3 separate regions of the Homo sapiens genome follow, and regions 2 and 3 are each linked to region 1. The links come from fine-mapping of genetic effects on gene expression. A gene starts in region 1. Each other region holds a variant in brackets. All regions are shown on one strand. Distances are from middle to middle.

The links.
Region 2: its variant is fine-mapped to the expression of HSPBAP1 in prefrontal cortex (CommonMind, PIP 0.93).
Region 3: its variant is fine-mapped to the expression of HSPBAP1 in whole blood (GTEx, PIP above 0.99).

Annotation. Positions count from the first base shown.
Region 1 is chr3:122,789,134-122,797,317 of GRCh38, forward strand. It overlaps HSPBAP1 (HSPB1 associated protein 1), which reads right to left and starts at 4,698. Exons shown (of 8, transcript NM_024610.6): 1 at 4,484-4,698. The coding sequence starts at 4,547. SLC49A4 (solute carrier family 49 member 4) reads left to right here and starts at 5,936. Exons shown (of 9, transcript NM_032839.3): 1 at 5,936-6,402. The coding sequence starts at 6,060. RefSeq lists a silencer at 5,773-6,262.
Region 2 is chr3:122,884,613-122,892,796 of GRCh38, forward strand. It overlaps LINC02035 (long intergenic non-protein coding RNA 2035), which reads left to right and starts at 1,901. Exons shown (of 1, transcript NR_024618.1): 1 at 1,901-7,804. RefSeq lists an enhancer at 5,808-5,897. The variant T/A (reference allele first, on the strand shown) is at 3,288.
Region 3 is chr3:122,702,619-122,710,802 of GRCh38, forward strand. PARP14 (poly(ADP-ribose) polymerase family member 14) reads left to right here. Exons shown (of 17, transcript NM_017554.3): 7 at 1,124-1,360; 8 at 1,909-2,130; 9 at 5,572-5,650. Among named protein-coding and RNA genes, the nearest start is that of PARP14, 26 kb to the left of the region's middle. The variant A/T (reference allele first, on the strand shown) is at 3,753.

The DNA.
Region 1 (8,184 bases):
GAGAACAAAAATGACATGGTGAGTACGGGTCTCCAACTGAAAAAGATAAATCCAGTTATGTAGGAATGTTAGTTCTAAGTGAAAATCAATTCCATACAACTCTAGATGAGATATTTCCTCAGAAAGCACTGGAAGAAGAGTTACTAACACATTCTCCTCTTTATCAAGGAATAATCTTGGCTATAACTAAAAACTAAAAAACAGCCCAATAGAGAGAAATATAATAACCTCAGTTTGAAAGATAGAATCACACTCAAATAACTGCAATTTTTAATTTCACTGAATGCTTCAATCTATGTATGATTCTGAGAGTAACATTTCACATTCAGAATTTAAATTAATTCTTAATTAACAATAAGTAGTTTCATGTTTGTTTTTAATTATTTCTAAGCTGTTATTTCAAACAAACAATATCACATTCTTGAAGGCAGACCTCTTACTTTTATCTCCCTAGAGGTTAGTCCAGTGCCTAGCATAAAATGATGCTAAACAAATGTTTCTTTCAAATAACTGTATAAGAATACCTGATTTTTAGCAATGTATAAAACTTTATTGAAACTAAGCACTTGTTTTCTCCACTTCTGTAGAATGAGCTATCAAGCATAACCAAGGTGATTAGTTCCACGATTTTATGCTCACCTCTACCAGTTACCCTTTCCTGCTCCCAAGCACTGACTCACTCCTATCACTCCTAATCACCCGCAACCCTATGGCAATCATGCCAAAGCTTCTTTTTTTTTTTTTTTTGAGACAGGGTCTGGCCCTGTTGCTCAGGCTGGAGTGCCATAGCACGATCTCAACTCACTACAACCTCCGCTTCACAGGTTCAAACGATTCTTGTGCCTCAGCCTCCCAAGCAGCTGGAACTACAAGCGTGTGCCACCATGCCCAGTTTATTTTCGTATTTTCCGTAGAGACAGGGTTTCACTATGTTGCCCAGGCTGGTCTCAAATTCCTGAGCTCAAGCGATCTGCCTGCCTCGCCTCCCAAAGTGCTGGGATTACAGGCATGCACCAGCATGCCTGGATGCTTCTTCACTCTCAAATCTCCAGTACCTTTCTCTACTTCCTTACTTTTGTGGTACCTTGCTCTATTTTTCTGCAAAGACTGAAACCCATGATTTCCCTCTTCGTCACTTCAGCATTTCTGTTTTCACCCTGCTCTTCTCTGGATTCAATGGATACAAGTCTTCCCCTTTTTCACCCAGGTTCTCTGTCATTATTTCTACTTTAGTAGAATTGGTATCCTCACCTGGCTCATCTTCAAGAAATTATCCTAGGAAGCACAAACCAACCCAATTTCTATTAGTTCCTTCTCCTCTCAGCCTCCAAAGTACTTAATGTGTATCATATTGAGTATCATATCCCAGCTAATTACATCTGACCTTTAGGATATGTCTTATACTACTGTTCTTTTTATCTATGTCTTTATTGCCAAAAATGATATTTATAATTATTTTGGGGCAAAGATTGTCTTTTGCTTTACCACATGAAAAAGGTCTGTTTACCATGTGCCATTCAAATATTTTTTGATAATGGAATAAGTTTGCTCAAAAATGAACTTTTCAGCTGGGCACAGTGGCTTATGCCTGAAATCCCAGTGCTCTGGGAGGCTGAGGTGGGAGCATCACTTGAGGCCAGGAGTTCGAGACCAGCCTACGGAACATTGTGAGACCCTGTATCTACAAAAATAAAAAATAAACCAAAAATTTTAAAAATGAACTTTTCTATGACTCCCATTGTATTCATCATTGTACTGAACATACTGACCCTTTCACTTGACTTTATTTAATGTATTTATTTTTCTCATTCTCTTACATAACATCTCTAATTTCTTTTCTTTCAGTTTCAACATCAGTTACTAAGGCTGGCACTTTCTATTAATAATAAAAATGGTCACGATTCTTGAATATCCAATTCCTGCCAGATACTATGCTAGATAATCTACACATATTAACTCTAATCTTCACAATAATCATGCATTTTACAGAGGAGGAAACTGAGGCTCAAAGGGATTAAGTACCTTGTCCTCCAGTCTTTCTCCCTCCAATCGGTCTTCTACCCTTCAGCCAAAGTGATCTTCCTACAACCAAATCTAATCATGTTATTTCCCTCACCTAAAGCTCTTTAAGGCTTCCTACTGTCTTAATGTCTAGATTCCTTAACTAGGCCTAAGGTAACCTTCAGGATACCTCTTTTCTTACCACTCCTGACACCAACTTCTTTCAGTTCTTGGACCATGCCATGCTTTCTCCTTTTGCCTCTGGACTTGGCATGGAGTGCCCTTATTCATCCACTCAACAAACATGTGGCATGTGCCAACTATGTGCCTGGCATTGTACTAGCAGCTGGGCACATGGTAGAGAATGAAACAGACATAGGTCCTGCCCTCAAGGTACTTATGATCTAATGGAAAAAACAAATAATAAATAATTACAGATTGTAGTAAGTAAAATGACAGAAGCAGGATGCTGTATTCCAGAACATCTAGGGTTGGGGGGTGCAAGAGAAATCACAGTGACTGTTTTAAATAGTTTGATCTGGTAAGGTCTCAGGTGGTGACATACTTTAAAAGCTAAAGATTAAGCCAGCTATGTGAAAAGCCAAAGGGGAGGTGAGTGACAAGAGATCCTGCTAAAGACATCAGCAGAGCCCAGACCAAGGATTATTACAGGCCACGGTTAAGAATCTGGGTTTTATTCTAACTTCTAAGGGCAATGTAATTCGCTGAAGAATTTTACATAAGGAAGAGTCACTTTTTGCTGCAGAGTGGAGAAGGGATTAGAGGGGCACAGAATAGAAAACAGAGACACAAGTCAGTCAGGAAGATACAGTAGTAGTTGAGGTGAGAAAATGTGGATGATTTGAAGTACGGTCTGATAGTGAAAGGAAAAAAGTAGACAGATTAGATGCAGAATTGACCTGACTTGCAAAGTCATTACCTGAAATTAAGAAAGAGGCAGAGAGAGGTTATAGAGTTTGGGAATTTGTCATTGGAGAACGTTAGCAGGCTCACTAGAGAAACAGAGGATCAGAGGGATCTCAAGCCCATACTGACTGAATATTCAAGAGTTTGGCCATTTTCACTTTATACGGTCATCAGTTTGTGCAGGACTTTTTCCAGCAAAGTTCAGGCCCACGGGTGCAGGTACAAAGAGGGCAAAAGGTTGACTTCATCCAGAGTAAGAGTTTTGTCAGAAAAAAGTGCAGGAAGGGACAAGAGAATTTTTCAAAGGAACGACATACATTCTGGATAAGGGGGTGCAGTGGATAGAAAATGGAAAGATCAATGCAATGGAGGTATAGATGAAGGTCAAGAATTGTCTCCCTGGTAGAAAGTGGTCAGATAGTAGGAGGCTATAATTTGTTTCTTCTGCTTGGAATGGGCATCTCCCCCTTCAGCAAACTGTTTGACCCCTAAATACATCCATCCTTTTCTGCTCCCTGACTTCCTGAACCCCAGCACCACTCCCTGAGTTTGTCACCATCTCATCCAATCAGAAAGGCCCACCTCAGCGGATCACAAGGTCAAGAGAGCGAGACCATCCTGGCCAACATGGTGAAACCCCGTCTCTACTAAAAATACAAAAATTAGCTGGGCGTGGTGGCACGCTTGTAGTCCCAGCTGCTTGGGACGCTGAGGCAGAAGAATTGCTTGAACCTGGGAGGTGGAGGTTGCAGTGAGCCAAAATCGCGCCACTGCACTCCAGCCTGGTGACAGAGCGAGACTCCGTCTCAAAAAAAGAAAAAAAAAAAAAGAGAGAAAAGAAAAAGAAAGGCCGACCTCAAACTATTCGCTCCTTGAAGCATTTATGTTCTCCCCACTGAGATCCCTCCTCCTAACAACCCTCACAGAGTGTACTACTGGTAGAATAGTTCAGGTGACCACATAGTAAGTCATTCTTTTTCCTTTCTAGGCTCCTTTGGAAAAGGTATTGTTATAAATATTCAAAAGTCTCTGGATCCTGCGACAGTATTCAGAACACAGCCCTGCACGGTGCAATCATTCAATAAATAATAACAGGGATCTCAGGCTCATGGGCCTCCAAACCTCATCCCCACTTGCTAAACCAGGGTTCACTGAAATAGAATAAAAGCGCATAATCCCTGTTCACAAAAGTCTCAGATAACTTCCATTAATCTCAAAGGTTGCCTTCAATTTCACAAATTTAATTTTAATCCCCTCTAAACGTTCAAAACACCTCTATTTAGCTAATGATGGGCAAATATAAAACAAAACAAAACAAAAATAACACCCCATGCGTGAAACAGCACTCGTAGGCTACCCTACGACGATCAAAAATCTGGATGCCACAATTCGAGAAATGCCACGCTCACTAGAAAATATAGATTTTTCTTCATAGTCTAATGCAAGGCCAGAGAGACCTGGGTTGGGGCTAAGGCAAACGGCCCCACGAGGGGTGCCACGAGAGTCAACTGGCATTGGGTTTGTACTCAGGGTCGGACCTCAGCCTGGCACCTACCTTCCTCCCCTCCAGCCCCAGCCGCAACGATCACAGGAGTGGTCGCCTCGGAGCCTGCTGCCATGGCTACCGCAAGGCGGGTTCTGCCGGAACCCAAGGCGGAGCGGAGCTGGGGTGGGGTCAGAGTAGGGGCCAAACTCCGAGACCCGAAGCTGCACCACAGGAAGGAGCCCCGGCGACTCCCGCCCGGCTCCTACGGAAACGCCGGCTCTCACGTGGAGGTCACGTGACGGATGCTGGGCGGGACCACGCAGCTTTGTTTTGATACCCCGGGTGTGGAAATACAAACACGTGGTCTGAGTTGTGGCGCTTTTTACCTAACCCGGACCTTAGCGTTCTTTATTGTAGTCTTAGCTTCGTTTCTGTTTCTCCTTTTCTAGTCAGATCCTTCCTTTCCACCTCGGCTTTTCTCCACCCTAAAGGATTGGAGTTTTAGGGGAAGGTTTGCCGCTTAGTGGGGCTCCGGCGGTGGGATGGGTCTCTGCCGTGAGCTTTCGCGAGCCGCTCTTGGCAGCCTGGAATGCGAGGCTAGCTCACGCTTCTCTTACACCTCTCTTGCCCTTCTGGTGGTAACCTGACTCCTTCTGATTTTAGTGGCTGCCGGGAAATACGAACCTCGGGCAAAGAATCCTGTGATTGCGTTCCCTGTGACTCATTTCCCGATCCAGACAAGCCAAATTGCTTGACTTTAGGTTTTCAAGGACACTAATCCACAGCTGTCAGGCTTCTGAATTTGTATACCAAAATAAACAAACAGCTGTGTGAAGAGATCAACAACCACCTTTCTTCTCGTTTACCCTGTGGTCAAATCATAATCACTGGAGATGGATCTTTGGGGCAAAAATCTTCCAACTTTACTGGACATACCTTTATTGCTCGCCTATTGGCAGGCGAAATGGGTAAAGTTTACATATATATGAATGAAATTGGCTAGTTTGGAATCTCCTCTTTGGATATGTAAGACAAAAAAGTAACAAAAATAGGTAGTACTTATTGCACGTAAGAAATGATTTTTATGAGATAATCCCCTGGGACCAACTACGCTTAAACTTTATCCTTCGCCTATAATTTCTGAAGTTACTAACTCAACAAAAATGAGAATAAGCCCAAAATAGAAGCAAGCATCAGGTTAACTGACGTCACTTAACAGGTCACTGAGTTGTTTATTAGGCACAAGATTTAACTTGGACACTTCCTCCAAACACCCCAGGGTTCCTTGCCCAACCTCCTCGAATACAGCCTCTCTGGGAGTTTCCCTCTCCCCGACTCAGCCGCGCTGGTCCCTGCCTTTTCAGCGCTACCTGCCCTCCGTCTGGGACCTGGCTCCTTTCCTCTCGCCGGTGTTTCCTCGCCACCCGCGGAGGGGAGGGCGGACCCCAGCCTCCTTGCCGCCTGCCCCGCCTCCCCGCCTCCCCGCCGGCCCGGCTCGGGCCGCGCAGGCGCACCAGGCGCGGTCCGGAGGCCGAGGGCGACCACAGCAGCCTCCGCCTCCTGCTGCTCAGGACTATTCTGCGCTGGGCTAGTCGGCGGTGACCCGGACTGCGCCCGGCAGTGGCTTCGCGGGCGACGCGTCGCCATGGGCTCTCGCTGGAGCAGCGAAGAGGAGAGGCAGCCGCTGCTGGGGCCCGGGCTCGGGCCTGGGCTGGGGGCCTCCTGGAGAAGCCGGGAGGCGGCGGCGGCGGCGCTGCCCGCGGCGGTCCCGGGTCCCGGGCGGGTATACGGGCGCCGCTGGCTGGTGCTGCTGCTCTTCTCGCTGCTGGCGTTCGTTCAGGGCCTGGTCTGGAACACCTGGGGTCCCATCCAGAACTCGGCGCGCCAGGCCTACGGCTTCTCCAGCTGGGACATCGCGCTGCTCGTGCTGTGGGGGCCCATCGGCTTCCTGCCCTGCTTCGCGTTCATGTGGCTCCTGGACAAGAGAGGTGAGGGGTCGCGGAGCGCCAGCCCGCGCTGTCTCTCCTCCGGGAGCAGGCGCCTGCCCGCGCTCCAGGCCTGCCAGCCGCCTCCCTTGGCCCCGGCATAGGGGTTGTGTGAGGTGATAGAGTGTTGCTAGCATTCCATTTCTGACTTAGGAACCCTCCGTCCCCAAAGCGACAAATATGGAAAGGCAACCTTGCAAATATTTATGTTTTTTATCAAGGCCCTTTATGCAACACCAGGGATTTAAGCGATCTCTAAACGTTCAAGTTTTTACACATTGTGAACATCAGAGCATCCCCGTGCACGTGCGGTGTATGTGTTTTACACCTGACAAAAATGACTGATGCTTTGACTTCAAAGGGATATGGGGATGTTGAGGATGAAAGGTCGGAAAATAGATTGACGGTGCCCATATGTAAGGAAATAATGAGTTCGTTTTGTGTAATAGATGACTCCAGCCCAGGAAGAGCTATTGGGAAACTCAGATCTGACACTTTGGTTTCTGGAAGGTGGTGCTCGGCAGCTTTAAAATGTGTGTATGTGACTAGATGGCTTTCTCAGTTGAGATTTGTGACTTTCAATTAAAGCTTGCAGATGAGTGAAGATGCTTGCTTAGAATGGTACCCTGGACATCTCACTTTACCACTTGCCAGTGTGATTCTCTGAGAAGAAAAAGCCATAGGGCTGAGAATCAAGGCATACTTACCACATAAGTATGGATAAATGATTAGTAGTGACAGTCTACCCTCAAGAGGCTGTTGTGCAAGATTTTATATTTATTAATTGAATAATGCCTGGGAGCTACTTTGTACAGTTTCTGTTCAACCTTTTATAAGTTTTGTTGCAATGAGTTCTTTAGTCAGATTTGGAAGGTTGTCTTAGTCCACTGGAGCTGCTATAACAAAATACCATAAACTGGGTAGTTCATAAACACAGAAATTTATTTCTCACAGTTCTGGAGGCTGGGAAGTCCAAGATGAAGGCTCAGGCAGAATCGGTGTCGGGTGAGGGCCTGCTTCCTACACAGTGGTCTCTTCACTATAACATAAGATGGAAGAAGGGGTTAGGGAATCCCTCTGAGGTCTGTTTTATACGGGCAGTAATCCTATTCACATGGGTTCCACCCTCATAACCTAATCACCTTCCAAAGGCTGCACCTTCTTATTCCATCATTTTGAGGGTTAAGATTTCAAAATGTGAATTTGAGGCCTGGCGCAGTGGCTCAAGTAATCCCAGCACGTTGGGAGGCTGGGGTGGGAGGATTGCTTGAGCTCAGGAGGTCGAAGCTGGAGTGAGCTGTGATGGCACCACTGCACTCTGCCCTGGTCAACAGGGCAAGACTCGTCTCAGAAAAATTAATACATAAACAAAATATGAATTTGAGGGGAACACATTCAGACCTCAGCAAAAGTCAAGTGTAGGTAGGTATAGAATTGCAATTGTCTGGCATGTAGTTAGCACTCAAAATTAGTTGGTTATTAAGAGAATAGAATAGCAGGGTGATGTTAGTAGTTATACTTCCTTCTCTCCTCCTTCACTGGAATTCCTTCATTGGAATCCATGTGAAAAAGACTAAGGAATAGTTGATTGTGAATTCCTTAATGATCAACAATATAATGTAGCTGCTAAAAAAGAAAGGACAGTTTAGGCATAGAAACATAGTGTCCAAAACAAGAAGCAAAATAGTTTGATAGGCTCTACATTAGTGTTTAGTTCTGAGCTTGATTCTGAGAAGGCCATTTGACAAACTGCAGAACTTTAAAGGTTCTGCGACAAGAATGATA
Region 2 (8,184 bases), 95 kb after region 1:
AGAAGGATCATAGAATCAAAGAAATGATCTAATTCAGCCACCTCATTTTACAAATCAGTAGAGAACCTTTTAGGTTAAATGACACAGCCAGGTTTTAGCAGATCACTTGGCTCCTAGACCAGCATTCAATCCCTAAATGATCAATGTGTTAGCCATAAGTAATTCTTTTAAGTAATTTTTTTCATTTCTTTTAGAGTTTTGAAAATTACATGAGAAATACATGAGTGTATAACTATTATAAAATAGTACAGGAATAGAAAGTAAAGTCTACCTCCATACAAACATGCTGTTTAATCCATTCTCTCCAGAGGGTATCATCATTCATTCTTTCAGAAGAAACTTGTGTATGCATTTACATATCTATGTATAAAAACTCGGGGGGCATTTAAAATCGAGTCACCTAGGGATCTCTTTCTTGGACCATATTGGTATAAACTTTATGGGCAGAAGCAGAAGTTTCTGAGATCCTTATTTCTCTCCCAGATGAATCTGTCAGATGTAGCATATTGTGGTTAATGTAGGTGTTTCACAGACCTGCTTATGTACCATCAAGCTTTATCATATTCTAAAGTTCAAAAGTGAGTTCCAATATGCATTATTGAGTTGAGTTCCAATATGCACTATTGTGTTTTCTTACTGGAAATACAATTTCTGTTCTTAACACCATCAACTAAGCTCCCTGTACTGTGAGAAAAGAAAGTGAGTAACCGACCTATGAAATCCATATAGATTTCCTCCACAGGACTTTCTTGGCTTCCCTGTCTCTGCAGAGGCACACAATATTATAGAAAACAGAAGCCAAAAGAATAATCTTGTGCAATTTTTTTTTTTTTTTTTAGACAGGGTCTCACTTTGTCATTCAGGCTTGAGTGCCCTGGTGTGATCTCAGCCCACTGCAGCCTCAATCTTCCAGGCTCAAGCAAGCCTCCAGCCTCAGCCCCCCAAGTAGCTGGGACTACAGGTGTATACCACCATGCCAGCTAATTTTTTATATTTTTCGTAGAGATGGGGTTTCACCATGTTGCCCAGCCTGGCTTGTGCAATTTCGTTTTTTGAAAAAATAGCTAATGGAGATTCTGATAATTCTTATTGTTTCCTGGTCAACTTCTGTGTCTTTCCTAATTTTCAAGCTGTCAGTAGAAATGATGAACTGTAGCAGGCCAGAAGCTCAGCTTCATTTGGTCACTTTTTCCTTTCCTGTCTTCTTGCCCATCCAGCTTTCCCCTTTCTGATGGTGTCTTCTTATTTCTGACAATGCTTGGGAGCGAGCTGTGTGACACCCAGATTTTACGAGTTGCCAGCGGTGGAGAGGAGAGAGCCGGGCATGCAGATTCTTCATGGACCCTACTAGAGAGGACAGAGAAAAAGAGCACTGGTGTAGGAGCCCACGGGTCTGGCTCTTAACCCTGGCCTGGTGACTTCAGCTATTTGACCTTGAGCAAGTCACTTCATTTCTCCTTTAGCAACATCTCTAAAATGAGGGAGTGAGCAAAAATGTTCCCTTAGATTTCTTCTAATTCAGAAATACCAGTTGATTCTTATTTAAATATGAACATGACCAAAGCATGTGCAGTCTGTAAAGCTGGAGAGGTGCCCAGCACCTTGGTGTTTCCATTTGTGCGGTAGCCCCCCTCATGTGAGCCCTGTACGTGAACATATGAAATCTTATGCTGCATCCACATTCAATAAGAAGAAATTGCTTTTTCAGTGTCTGTGGGAGGAGATAAGCTGCAGGTGCTGTTTATTTTCCCAAAGGACTTTATATATGAAACACAGGGTTTATTAAATGTATCAAATGCAATAAGAGAAAAATCTGTCATCTGATGTTGAGATAGCATACTGGGAGCCAGGTCGGGGTACTGCATTTGCTCACCAGAATCAGATCAAACGAGATACGAGTCCTTTGGTTTGATTGGATTCATCATGAGGCAGCATGGGTTTGCACTTGTAGAAATCAAAACTGTTAGGTCAGGTAGTAAAGCCAATCCTTGAACTTACATCTTTAGTTAAGGCATCAAAGAATTGTAAGTTGCTTTGCAATGATGCCATCTCCACATGGTCAGATTCTTCCAGTAAACTGTGCAGATATTTTACAGAATAAGAGCTAAGTTTCAGCATGTCAAGGAATGATCTGTACTCAAGTGTTAGTAAACAAGGGTTTTTTTGTTTGTTTGTTTGTTTTGAGACAGTCTCTGTCATCCAGGCTGGAGTGCAGTGGCATGATCATAGCTCACTGTATCCTCAGACTACTGGGCTCAAGTGATCTTCCTGCCTCAGCCTCCTGCGTAGCTAAGACTACAAGCGCATGCCACCACCCCTGGCTAATTTTTTATTTTTTATGGAGAAGGGGTCTCACTATGTTCCCCCAAGCTGGTCTTGAACTCCTGGACTTAAGCAATCCTCCCACCTCAGCTTCCCAAAGAGTTGGGATTAAAGGCGTGAGCCCCCATGTCCGGCCAACAAGACTTCCTCGTGACTATAATGTGAGCATAATATTAATAGCTCTGAGAGAGAGAAGTGAACCAGAAGACCAACCTCAGTGTCAGGAAGTCTGGGCGTCTGTCTTCTGCATGGCTGAAGACATGGGGCTTTGGGCAAGTCATCTGTTCTCTTTGAACTTTGGCTTCCTCACTTCTGAAATAGGAGGGTCAGAGAAGATGTTTCTTTTTGCTGAAAAGTTTTACAGTTCTCTGATCTATACCCCTTGGTCACACACAACCAAAAAGTAGAAAACATGAGTGCAATACTTTTCCACCAGTACTCCCAGTTTATACATTATCTTCTCAAACCAATAAGGAACTTCTACAAGGCCCTGTTAGTGATGTGTTACAGGTGCCAGCATTAGGGAAACTTTCAGACTGTTATATCTATTCGTTCCTTCATCCATGTATACTATTCATTCTGTATGCAGAGTAATTTATATATGTACAATTACATGGCAGTGAAAGATAATCAGAAAAATGAAGTTTTTTTTTTTTTTTTGAGATAGTTTTGAGACAGAGTCTTGCTCTGTTTCCCAGGCTGGAGTGCAGTGGTGTGATCTTGGCTCACTGCAACCTCCGCCTCCCGGGTTCAAGGGATTCTCGTGCCTCATCCTCCCGAGTAGCTGGGACTACAGACATGCGCCACCATACCCAGCTAATTTTTGTATTTTTAGTAGAGATGGGGTTTTGCCATGTTGGCCAGGCCATTCTCGAACTCCTGGCCTCAAGCGATCCTCCTGCCGGCTTCCCAAAGTACCGGGATTCCAGGCATGAGCCACCATGCCCAGTCAGAAGGTTTTTTTT[T/A]AAAAAACACACTCCTGAACTAACAATTACAAAGAGCTAGTGACAATTTCCCAAATAATTATGCATAACAGGAGCCCATATATTGTTCTCAAATCATAAACCATAACTGATTTTGAGGAAAAGACATTCTGTCCCACTGATATTCTTTTCATGAGTAAGATCTGGATCTGTCTGGAGGCACAGAATTAATTTTTGCATGAGGAATCCCAACCCTACCATCATTCCATGGCTGAGGAATTGGTTATTACTCCTATGGGAAATTGGGAATGTTGTTGGTACCCCAGCCTTCTCTTAAGACAAAATTTAACAAATGCATACATGCTAAGATGCTTATACTCATAAGGCTTTGTGGGTCTCCTTTCTAAGGGGAATTTGAATACTAACAAGAACAAAGGCTAAATACCAAAAGGGGGCTTTCTAATGGTAGAATTTGGGATATCAGGTAGCCACATAGAGCAGGGCTACTTTGGGGGCTGGAGACTGCAGAAACCCTTCAGTTTATACGTGTGAGTAAACCTAATCACACTTGATGTATTGCTAGTGAAGTCCCAGCCCCCTGAGCCTTTGCAGAAACCCAAAGAATGCTAAAAAGGGCAGGTTTTAGTTCCTGCCAATTATTTCATTTACTACAAATGCCCCGAGTTCCGAATTTACTTCCCTCCCCACCAGAAATATGTCATTTTGGAGGCTTGTGAAAATTAAGCATTAAGAAAATCCCGCCTCCATCCTAATACACTGCATCCACAAGTCCCAAACAAAATCACTTCCTTGGCCTACACACATAACTACCTGTTTCTGTTTAGGTCTGTGACTCAGAAAGTGCCTGGAAGAAGTCATGAGAGGGAGTCGATCCCATCTTACCTGCCATAGGAAGAATAGGGCCTGCTCAGTAGAGTTCAGTGTGTGTGTTGAAGGTGGTGGTTCTTAGTCCTTCCCTGAATTCACTAATTCGCATTGCACTCACTCTTCCTGATCAATGAGTTATTGCTGAGAAATCATTGTAGTAAGTAATACAGGTATCCCCAGTAAAGCCATCCCTCTCCTCCATACCTCCGCTGTCCCTTGGGTTTTGGCTCCAGGATCCTTGCCCCATGTCCCAAAGAATCCCTACCTTGGGCCTCCCTCCTCCTCTTTTGTCAATTGCACTTGACCTTTTCAGGAAAAAGAAATCAATTGATACCTTAGTCCTAATGTTTGACCCTTTTCTATCTCAGAATAGAGAAGTCCCTGTATTTGTTCTTTTTTTACTCAAGTTTAATATAGACCACCTAGGCACAGAAGCTCCGTGCTATATTCTGTTGCCTGTAATTGTCCTTCCATCTAATTGGGAAAAGGTTACTCTATTGAACCATCTGCTGATTCCCTTACCTTTTCACTCTTTTGTCAGTATTCCTTTACCAGTAAATTCTTGGTTATCTAGGTCCTGAAGTTTCATTCATGTTTTTTTTAAAAGCTTTAATTTTTCTTAGGAAAACTGTTTCTCTCATCTTAAAGCAGACTATGATCTTTTCTACTTTGTTATACAATCTGAACATAATGAACACTCTAAAGTCAGGCATGGATTTTATCATAAAAGCAGATCGTATTAAGATTTTTTTAAAAAAGAACCAGGATTGAGGAATCTGTAGCTAATAATTTAATAATTCACCAGCATGTTTTGGGCTCCCACTTCATGCTGGCCACTGGGCTAGGCACTGAGGGTGCAGAAGCAAACAAATCAGCCTCCTGGCCCTCAGATTTGCATTCCAGTGAGTCCATTCATAAAACCTAACTCAAAGCCAGCAACACCCCCAAAAGGGCTGTTGGAAGCTTTGTAGCTCATCTGTACAGCTGTCTTGATTCCTGTACGGGATCTTACTTTCTTGGGAAAATATGTTCTAAATCCTGTTTCCTTGGGCCATTAAAAATCCATGCTGTCCCTAATCAATATATAGTTATGTGTGACCTTCTTAGAATTAAAAAAATGCCGCTGGACAGCCTTTGAAGGGAAAGGCAGAGAAATCTGTTTTGATGGCTTGAAAATAAGTGAAAAGGTTTTTAGGGAAAGCTAACAAGCTTTCAAAGATTTCAGATCTGCCAGCATTCATTCATTAAGGCATGGGATTAGGCCAAAAGAGCCTCCTACCAAGGGAGAGACAGGAACCATGTAAGGAGATCTGTGAGACCGCAGTGGAAGAGTATTGAAATAGAAGCCAGACCTGTAGACGTATTTGTTAATATGTGTGCCAAGCCAAAGTACAGGAGGAGGCTTGGAGGCATGGAGTTGTGGTGGAAGCAGGTTCTGAAAAGCAGAACTCTGAAGCTGGCTCATTCTCACGAAGTCATCTGGCCCAGCCTCCCGCCTCCAAGCACATCCTGCCTGCAGAGGGTCTGGCTAGCTGCCTTTTCAGCTCTCGAGGGATAGAGATTCTACAACCTCCCTCTGTCATCAGTTCCAGAGCCACTCCCCTTTGCACTAGAAGTTCTTGCTTTCAAAGAATGAGGGTGTGAGGGAGGGAGGGGTCAAGAAACAGAGTGACAGGGGAAACAGGCAGAACAAGTCAGGGCAAAGGACCCCAGCATGAAGAGTTGTGGAGGTGGAGGTGGGGAAGCAGCCTCACATCTCACACTTCCTTCCTTCTCTTAAATGTGAGCAGCTGACTCCAAGCCTTGTGGAAACTCTAGAAGGTAGAACCAGCCATCTGGGGAAGCTGGCCTTACAGATGCCCCGTCTGGCATAGTGGAGGTTCCTGTGCTCTGAGAACGCAGTGTGAATCTAGACATCCACTGCAGCCTGGGAAGAGCTGTGTTTTCTTCAAAAGTCTTTAACTTTCACAGTCACCCCTCTAAAGAAATGTTCTCTGATTGAAGGCATGCTTCTATTCCTACTTTATTGTGTTTCATGCATTCTGCCAGAGTAATTACTTTTCATACCAATTCTTGGATGCAGAGAAATCTCTGGTAGTCTAAGGGGATTTCGATCCAAGTAAAGCTACTATCTCCTATTCCATCCAGACTTTTCCGTCTGCCTCCATTCTCTCAGTCACATACCTAGAAGCAAGCCAGAAAGCCTGTCCAACCAAAATCACTCTCCAAAGCCCAAGCACTTTATTGTTCTCCCTGTCTGTTATCGAGCCAAGGTGTATTTGGCCTCATTTTATGCCATTAGTTGTCTGGCTTTCATGGCTCTGCACCACATTACAGTCAGAGCAGGAAGGCCAGCAGTGGAGATAGAATTATGGCAGAAACCCAGAGTAGAGGCCTCTGCTGGTGAGGGAGCCTGCAGCACTCTCCACGCTGGTGGGTCCTAGCATGCCCAACAGACCCCCATCCCTTCCCATCAGCCTTGGGCCTTGAGTCTCATTCCAACTCATCCCCTCCCCTTTCCCTTCTTTCCAGTCCCAGGTGACACTTGATGCCTCTGACTCCTTTGAAGAGGGCATCAAGAAGTGAAAGAACAAAGTCCTTTTCTGTTCGGGATCTGGGCCCATCCTGGGAGAGGTTTTTGGCAGAAATGGCTGCAGTGGAACCCTCTGACTGCCAGGGTGAAATAGTGCTCCAGCAGGCTGCGGTAGACTCACTGCCAGAGTGGGTCAGGACTGGCCCAGAGGACAGGGTCGTCTCTTGAGAGTCCTCCCAGCTCCAGGGCCTGATTTTAAAGCAGTAACACGAGGATATAGGTTATATACAGGCTCCTGGAAGGCAGGTGCCGCAGCTCCTGTGACACCCCATATGCCTGAGCAAGCTTCTCCAGCACAAGAGATGATGCAAGTATGAATGGGTACGGGGGGAGCTTAAAACCTGCCAACACTGAGACTTGATGCCAGGGGCCGTGCACCCGCTCTGCCACCTGCTAGGTCTGTGCAATGGTCAGAGCAGAGGTGTGTGATGAGTTCAGCTCCCAAGCACATCCACACTTAGGAAGTGTTCTGTGTGTTTTTAAATAATCCTTACCATGTAAAGATTGTATTACATTTGTATACAAAATTTTTTTGCATTTTACTTTTGTAATATTTGGGGTTTTATAGATTTTTATTTTATGGCCAAGTATACTTTTGTAAGGAAATGTTGAAGTCTTGAGTATTTTTATTCTTTTAAAAAACTATAGTTAGTGTCAACTGTGAGCACTGATAAATATTATTCATGTGTGGTTTTCCTTCTTTTTAATCCAGACTTTTTAAGAAACTGTTTTGGCATAGAGCTTTACTTAAAATGCTGCTTCATTTTACACATTGTGAATACTGAAGATTCTAAAAAATAAAGATGCATTTAAAATCTCTGTGCTGTTCCATTGTAGAAATGGTAATGTGCATTGCTTTGCCAAAGTGGTAATTAAATGTTTAATGGTTTAGAACTCCTAGTTCACAACAGGGCTTCTCGTCATCACTTGCAGCGTGTGAGCTTCCAAATAAGCCGCCATTTCTTTGGAAAACGCACGCACTTAGGCATGGCGATCTCCTGTTCCGTTAGGAAATACGGTTATGTTGACATTATGGTTACTGTGCTTGTGGTTTTGCAATAAACATGTATTGAAAGCACTTGTGATAACGTGGTCCGCATTTTGTTTTTAATCAAACTCCAAATGGCAGTAGAAGTGGAGCCAAAGCTTCCTGAGCGTTCGGGCAGCAAGATGTGGTGAGAAAAAAAATACGAGTAAGGAAGCAGAGGCGGCTGGGCCAAATCCTTCTCCTCCGCAGCAAGCCCGGAGACGGGGATTCCGTTGTCTCTTTTGGAAATCCCCTGTCCTCATTCATTTAAAAAACATAAAATCAGGGAGGGAGATAATTACATTTACCTTTGCCTGGATTTTATGGTGTTGGAATAGAGTGAGGAGCACAAAGCTCCTGGCACATTTTGATTGCCTCATACGTGTTCCTGGCCTTCTTCCCTCCCTTCCCTCTTGAGTCTTCAGCGTCTA
Region 3 (8,184 bases), 87 kb before region 1:
TAAAGGGGTTAGGTAATTTGCCCACATCCCCCAACTAGCAAATGGTAGAGCCAGGATTGGAATTTGTTCAGGCTCTTAACCATTGCACTCTTTCAAAATGTTAAAAATAATGTTGTGTCTCATTTTAAAAAATTAAATAAAAACTCTTTGGACCAAGCATCAGTTATGGGAATGAATTTCATTCCTTGTCTCTTTTGACACCAAATATCAAGACATTCTTTCCCAGCTAGGCATGGTGGCTCATACCTGTAGTCCTTACTACTCGGAATGCTGAGGTGGGAGGATCACTTGAACCCTAGGAGTTTGAGGCTGCAGTGAACTATGATCATGCCACTGCCCTCCAGCCTGGGTGGACAGAGCAAGACCCTCTCTCTTAAAAAAAAAAAAAAAAACAAAAAAAAAAAACAAAAAACAAAAAACAGTCATAGTTTGCTTTCCTTTCACTCCCATAGATGCTTAGCTTCCATGGCTGTAATAACTGCTCTGCATTACTCCTTAGTGACCCAGGCAGGGCAGCTTTGAAAATCACTTGGTTACATTCCCTCTCCTCTGTTCTCTTGACCTCTCTAATCTAGCCCGATTAATCTGCTCACATTCACTGATGAAAAAGCTTCCGGGGCTGCTCCCTTTCTGTCAGGGAGTCCAGATGTCTTGGCACTCGAGGTGGGCCCCCTAGTTTACCCCCAGTGTAACATTTCTAGCCTGGAGCATACCATTTTGCTGCAGAAGCTCTCTCAGATCAAATTAATCTGTTCACAGCTCACAACCCACCATGCCTATGTTCATGCTGCTCCCTGTCTTGCTCTGCCTGCTGAAATTCTTCCCATTTCTCAAACCCCACATTGCCCATGGTATCTTCACTAGTTACTGAAACAGCTTTCTCTGGACTCCTTCAGTGATGCCATACCATTCATAGATTACTTTTTGACTGCTCTCTTTTTTTCCTAAGTGTCACTTCAATAAGTATTTAGTCACACTTTGTCTTATGTTGATATTTCAATCACTGAAACCGTAGTCATCTTAGTTGTCTCCAATTGTGCCAAGCCCAGTGCCTCAAATATAGTAATCATTGATGAATGCTTTTTGTTAAAATTTGAAACAAATTTTTGGTTTTGTCTTTAAGACCGATGTTGTTGTCAACTCCGTTCCCTTGGATCTCGTGCTTAGTAGAGGGCCTCTTTCTAAGTCCCTCTTGGAAAAAGCTGGACCAGAGCTCCAGGAGGAATTGGACACAGTTGGACAAGGGGTGGCTGTCAGCATGGGCACAGTGCTCAAAACCAGCAGCTGGAATCTGGACTGTCGCTATGTGCTTCACGTGGTAGCTCCGGAGTGGAGAAATGGTAGCACATCTTCACTCAAGGTTGGGCCTGGTTTTGAATTCTCCATGAAGTTGGGTAGCCCTTTGGGTTCTCCTTTTAGTAGCATATTAATTGGACATAGATTGGGCCTTGTCTGTTTCTCTTCCATAATAATCACTCTTTTGGCAGATTCCATCATGTGGCCATTTCTTTCAGCTGTAGCTGACTTCTCCTGAGGACTAGTTAATACTATAAATGGATTATTGTGCTCAATAATTATTGGAGCTCAGGGAAGGGTTACTGAAGATAATATTATTGCTTGCTTAGTGAAGAAAGCCAGAGGAGGGTGTGAAGAATGGAAGAGAATGAAGGAAAAGAACAGTAGTTGCTTTGCTTCTTTCCTTCATTGTGAATGTGTTTAAGTCTCTCGCATTCTCTTTTCCTTTTCCTTGCCTTCTCCTGTATTTTTCTTTCCTCTTCTGATTGCCCTTAATCAGTGTTGACAGCAAAAAGGAGTATTCAAGTTCACAAAGTTGCTAAATTCTTGTCCTTTTTGTTCTAACTCCCATTTCTAGACAAGATGTATAAGGATGTGCTTTGTGCGTTTCAGATAATGGAAGACATAATCAGAGAATGTATGGAGATCACTGAGAGCTTGTCCTTAAAATCAATTGCATTTCCAGCAATAGGAACAGGAAACTTGGGATTTCCTAAAAACATATTCGCTGAATTAATCATTTCAGAGGTGTTCAAATTTAGTAGCAAGAATCAGCTGAAAACTTTACAAGAGGTTCACTTTCTGCTGCACCCGAGTGATCATGAAAATATTCAGGTACAGTGCCACTAATTTCTGATTATTTTGGCAACTGAGACCTAGTGTTTTTTCAAATGTCTTTTTGGTCTAACAGGATACTTTTTTCATTCATTTCCCCATTCAGGAAAGTAAGAAGGTAGTTTATACTTGTAGTTGTAGTTGTAGCATGACAAATTTTAAGAAAAGTTACAGATGTAGAAAAAATTTAACTTCCTATTCAGGAAAATTTTGAACATATCCAAAAGTAGACATAATAGTATAATGCAGTCCCTTGTACCTATCACTGAACTTCAACAGTTATCAACCTATGGCCAATATGTTTCATCTCTATCTTCATCTATTTCCCTTCCTTCTATATTCTTTTGAAGCAAATCTCAGACATATCATTTTATCCATAAACAATTCAACATTTATTTTAAACAATAACAATTCTTTTTAAAAAAGTAACATAACCACAATATTGTATCACACCTAAAATAAATGGACAATAATTCCTTTAACCAATTATCAAATCAATTCTCAAATTTCTGACTATCTCATAAACGTTTTGTTTTTACAGCTTTGTGTTTGAATCAGAATCCAAATAAGGCCCACATATTGCAATGGAGTTGACTATAGGATTTCCCTCCATATGGACATAGAAATTTTAATACATAGTATAAAAGCACAGTCTGGCCTTATCAATAGGAAGATGTCAGAAGGTGTGGTTAGAATGGATTAGCACATTCCCATGTAAATAGGAGAGTTGGGACCAGAAACACCAGAACTATCATCAATCATGAGTTCATGATTCAGCTCACATCAGCTGTGGGAGAGCCACTGGACTCAGCATTATGGCAGCACAACAGGCTTTTAAGCCATTATCCCTGCACTCCGAGTCTTTACTTAATCAAATAAAGTAGATGACATTCAGTGTTTGAAAAGCTCCCAAGGTACTGCAAAAATTGATCAAACAGATTAAGATCAGCAACCCAAGAGATACCTGTGGATCATTGGACCATCTGAATTTTTAGGTAATGCTTCATTTTTCTGTGATGCTAGATACTACCTATAAGTTCTTTGGAAGCAAGTAAATCTGACCTGAATTCTGATCAGGCAGCCAAACCACCTGAGTAAAATATGTGGTCCATTTACTTGTCCCGTATAATTAGTTACTCTTCTGTGCAACAGAAGCTTTTAAAATAATTTCCCTATGACTTGCATTGTGCAAGGTGATGTGGATCGTGGAACAGGACGAATAGGAATAGCACATACTTTCCCTCCTATAAATCACAATTACTTTGGAGCTAAGATTTATATACACAAAATGAACTAAATGAGAGGCATGAAGTGCTGTTTTTGAATGCATGGGTGATTGAATACAGCATGAGTCCTGTGACACAGACCTGAACCTTCAAATATCACTCTTTTTCATGCAACCTCAGCATTCATTTTCTTTCCTGAAGACTGAGTATTTTTCAAATACTCTGTAAAAAGAATTAGTCTATACAGATGCCTTTAGTACCATTTGAAATTCTCTGTATGTGTCTGTTACACTTTTTCTCTTTAGACTTTTAAAGACAGTTAAACTTTGGTTACATTTGCACAAAAAAATCAGCAAAGCTTATCGAGATGTTTATAGATGGAGACTGTCACAGAGG[A/T]TGCAAAGCAGCAGTCCTGTGATTTGAACATGGCCTCTAGATGTGCTTTATTTAGATTATTAAAAAAAAATTTCAATCAGTTGCTAACATTTAAAAATCAAAAATTTTACATAAAACTCTAGATATTCACTACAACCTAAAACTTCAAAACTTCTGGCACATTAAACATGGCTTCCTGCTTGGGACAGGAAGTTTTCCATGGCTGAGTGGCAGGTGTTCTCTAGTTCTCCATAGTCAAATCAGACCACCTTTACACATGTGCCTTACCTACCTGGCTCCTAGAAGCCTGTGAGTCTGAGATCTTTGCTCTACCCTCTCTCTGGTTCCTTCTCCCATTATTGCATCTATCTTTAGCCAAGATGTTACTTGTTTTTTTTCCAACAAAATTATCTGTTGCTTGTTTACAAGGAGGAAGAAAATGATGATTATGGAGGGTCACCAACAGGCAAAAAAAAAAAAAATGAAATTCACAGGTTTATTAACACTAGAATACATACACCAGCTACTTGCTCCAAAAATCATGACTCCTCAGCCCCTCCTCTTTTGGTACAAATAGGAAATTAAAAACGGAAGTGTTTGGGACCTTGTGATGGTCATTCTCTTAACATTGTAGTTTTTACAATTGGCAAGTTATTTGCTTTGACTGACCATTATGGTAATTCATGTTCATTGTAGAAACTTTGAACAATGCAAAATGCATAAATTCTTTAGTTGGATTTTATTCCAGCCTGCTTTTTTTTACATATGTACTTTTAAAAGTGGGATTGGCTCGGAGCGGTGGCTCATGCCTGTAATCCCAGCACCTTGGGCAGCCAAGGCAGGCAGATCACCTGAGGTCAGGAGAACAGCCTGGCTAACATGGTGAAACCCCGTCTCTACTAAAAATACAAAAATTACCTCCCAAGTAGGCTGAAGCAGGAGAATCACTTGAACCTGGGAGGCGGAGTTTGCAATGAACCAAGATTGTGCCACTACACTCCAGCCTGGGTGACAGAATGAGACTCCATCTCAAATAAATAAATAAATAAATAAATAAATAAATAAATAAAGGATTGTGATTATAAATTATTTTATTTAATATCCTTCGCTTTTATTTTCTATTTCACTAAATCTTCTTTGAGGCTGGGCACAGTGGCTCACACCTTTAATCCCTGCACTTTGGGAGGCCAAGGCAGGAGGATCACTTGAGGCCAGAAGTTCAAGACCAGCTTGAGCAACATAGGGAGATCCTGTTTCTACAAAAAACAAACAAACAAAAAAACACAAAAAACAAAAAACGTAGCTGGGTGTGGTGCCATATACTTATAGTCCCAGCTACTTGGGAGGCTGAGGTGGGAGAATTGCTTAAGCCCAGGAGGTCGAGGCTGCAGTGAACTGTGATCACGCCTCTAGCATTCCAGCCTGGGCGACACCCCAGCCTGGGCAACACAGCAAGACCTCATTTAAAAAATTCTTTGAAAATACGATTTTTAATGGCTAATAAATACTCCAACACATGGATACAGCAACATTTATTTAACTTTTTCCCTGTTGAATTTTTAACTGTTTTTTCTCTGTTATGAATAGCACTGTAGTGAATATCCTTGTATTTATCCACATCGTTGTCCACATCGTTGATATTTTCATTAGACACATTTATAGAAACAGAATCATGTGTTGTTTTTATAACTTTCAAGATCTGCAATGAAATTAAATAATACTGTTTGAGAATGGTTATCTCCCAAATATGTATGTGTGCATGCAGGACAAAACACCCTGATGATTCCAATTTATTCATTTACTGAGGAGTGTAATGATCAACGCTGTGTTTATATTTCAGGCATTTTCAGATGAATTTGCCAGAAGGGCTAATGGAAATCTCGTCAGTGACAAAATTCCGAAGGCTAAAGATACACAAGGTTCAGTAAAGCTTCTAAATTGAGAAGTGATTTCTAGTTGCTAAGTAACTGTTCATTGGCAGGTAAAAGACAGTAGTGATAATTTTTATGAAAAAAAAATCAATGAGTGACAAATGATACTAAGTTATGTTTCATATACCTGAGCATGTAAGACACTGGTCATGTTTATATAATCTGAAGCAAAAGGGAAGGCAGGCCAAGTTATGTAATCTGTATAATGGGTTTTAAGTAATGACAAGACTACCATTTCCTGAGGAGAATGTGACATGTATTTTCCAAAATAGACAAATTTGAGAGACAATACTCACCAAATCTTTCACCTTTGTCAAATTTGTTGATGCCATATTTGAGTTTATCCTGTTTGAGTTTCACCGAGGCTTCTTGAATATAAAAATGTATGTCTTTCATCAAATTTGGAAAATTTTAAGTTATCTCTTTAAATGCTTTTTTGTGCACTGATCTATTTCATATCTCCTTCTGTTTTCCAATACTGTGGTGCTAAGCCTTTTGACAGTGTTCCAAGGTCTCTGCAGAGCTGTTCTCCCCATGCCTACCCCCCTCAATCCCACTCATCTTTTTTCTCTCTTGTTCTTCAGATTGGATAATTTATCTTGACCTGCCTTCAAGTTCACTGAGTCTTTTCTCTGTCCTCTATGCTATTGAGCCCATCCAGTGAATGTTTTATTTTAGATACGTATGTGTATGTTCTAAAATGTCTATTTGGTTCTTTTTTAAATTTTTAAATTCTTTAAAGTTTGAACTTTATTTTCATTTGCAATATATTATTATTATGATTATTTCAATAGTTTTGGGGGTACAGGTGGTTTTTGGTTACATGGATAAATTCTTTAGTAGTGATTTCTGAGATTTTAGTGCATCCGTCACCTGAGCAGCATATACTGTACCCGTTATGTAGTCTTTTATCCCTCATCCCCCTCTCAACCTTCCCCCTGGAGTCCCCAAATTCCATTATATCACTCTTATGATTTTGCATCCTCATAGCTTAGCTTTCACTTATAAGTGAGAACATAGGATGTTTGGTTTTGCATTCCTAAGCTACTTCACTTAGAATAATAGCCTCCAGCTCCATCCAAGTTGCTTCAAAAGACATTATTTCATTCCTTTTTATGGCTGAAGAGTATTCCATAGTGTATATACAGCACATTTTCTTTATCCACTTGTTGGTTGATGGACACTTAGGTTGGTTCCATATCTTAAATTGTGCTGCTATAAACATGTGTGTGTATGTTTTTTCATATAATGACTTATTTTGCTTTGGGTAGATACCCAGTAGTGGGATTGCTGGATTGAATGGTAGTTTTACTTTTAGTTCTTTCAGGAATCTCCACACTGTTTTCCGTAGTGGTTGTAATAATTTGCATTCCGACTAGCAATGTAAAAGTGATCCCTTTTTACCACATCCATGCCAACATCTATTGTTTCTTGACTTAAGTTATGGCCATTCTTGCAGGAGTAAGGAGGCATCTCATTGTGGTTTTAATTTGAATTTTCCTGATGATTAATGATGTTGAGCATTTTTTCTTATGTTTGTTGGCTGTTTGTATACCTTCTTTTGAGAAATGTCTGCTCAGATCCTTTGCTGACTTTTTGATGGGATTATTTGTTTTTTTTTTTGTTTGTTTGTTTGTTTTTTCTTGCGATTTGCTTGAGTTCCTTGTAGATTCTAGATACTGGTCCTTTGTCGGATGCATAGTCTTCAAATATTTTCTCCCATTCTGTGGATTGTCTGCTTACTCTCCTGATTACTTTGCTGTGCAGAAGCTTTTTAGTTTAATTAGGTCCCATTTTTAATTTTTGTTTTTGTTGCATTTGCTTTTGGGGTCTTAGTCATGAATTCTTTGCCTAAGTCAATGTCCAGAAGAGTTTTTCCAATGTTATCTTTTAGAATTTTTATGGTTTCAGGTCTTAAATGTAAGTCTTTGCTCCATTTTGAGTTGATTTTTATATGAGGTGAGAGATGGGGATCCAGTTTAATCTTCTACATGTGGCTTGCCAGTTTTCCCAGCACCGTTTATTGAATAGGTATCCTTTCCCCAATTTATGTTTTTGTATGCTTTGCTGAAGATCAATTGGTTTTAAGTATTTGACTTTATTTCTTGACCCTCTATTCTGTTTCATTGGTCTATGTGCCTATTTTTATACCAGTACCTTGCTGTTTTGGTAACTATAGCCTTGTAGTATAATTTGAAGTTGGGTAATGTGATGTCTCCAGATTTGTTCTTTTTGCTTAGTCTTGCTTGGCTATATGGGCTCTTTTTTGGTTCCATGTGAATTTTAGGATTTTTTTTCTAGTTCTGTGAAGAATGATGCTGGTATTTGGATGAGAATTGCATTGAATCTGTAGATTGCTTTGGGCAGAATGGTCATTTTCACAATATTGATAATTCCCATCCATGAGCATGGAATGTGTTTCCATTTGTTTGTGTCATTTCTTTGACCAGTGTTTTGTAGTTTTCCTTGTAGAGATCTTTCACCTCCTTGGTTAAGTATATTCCTAGGTATTTTATTTATTT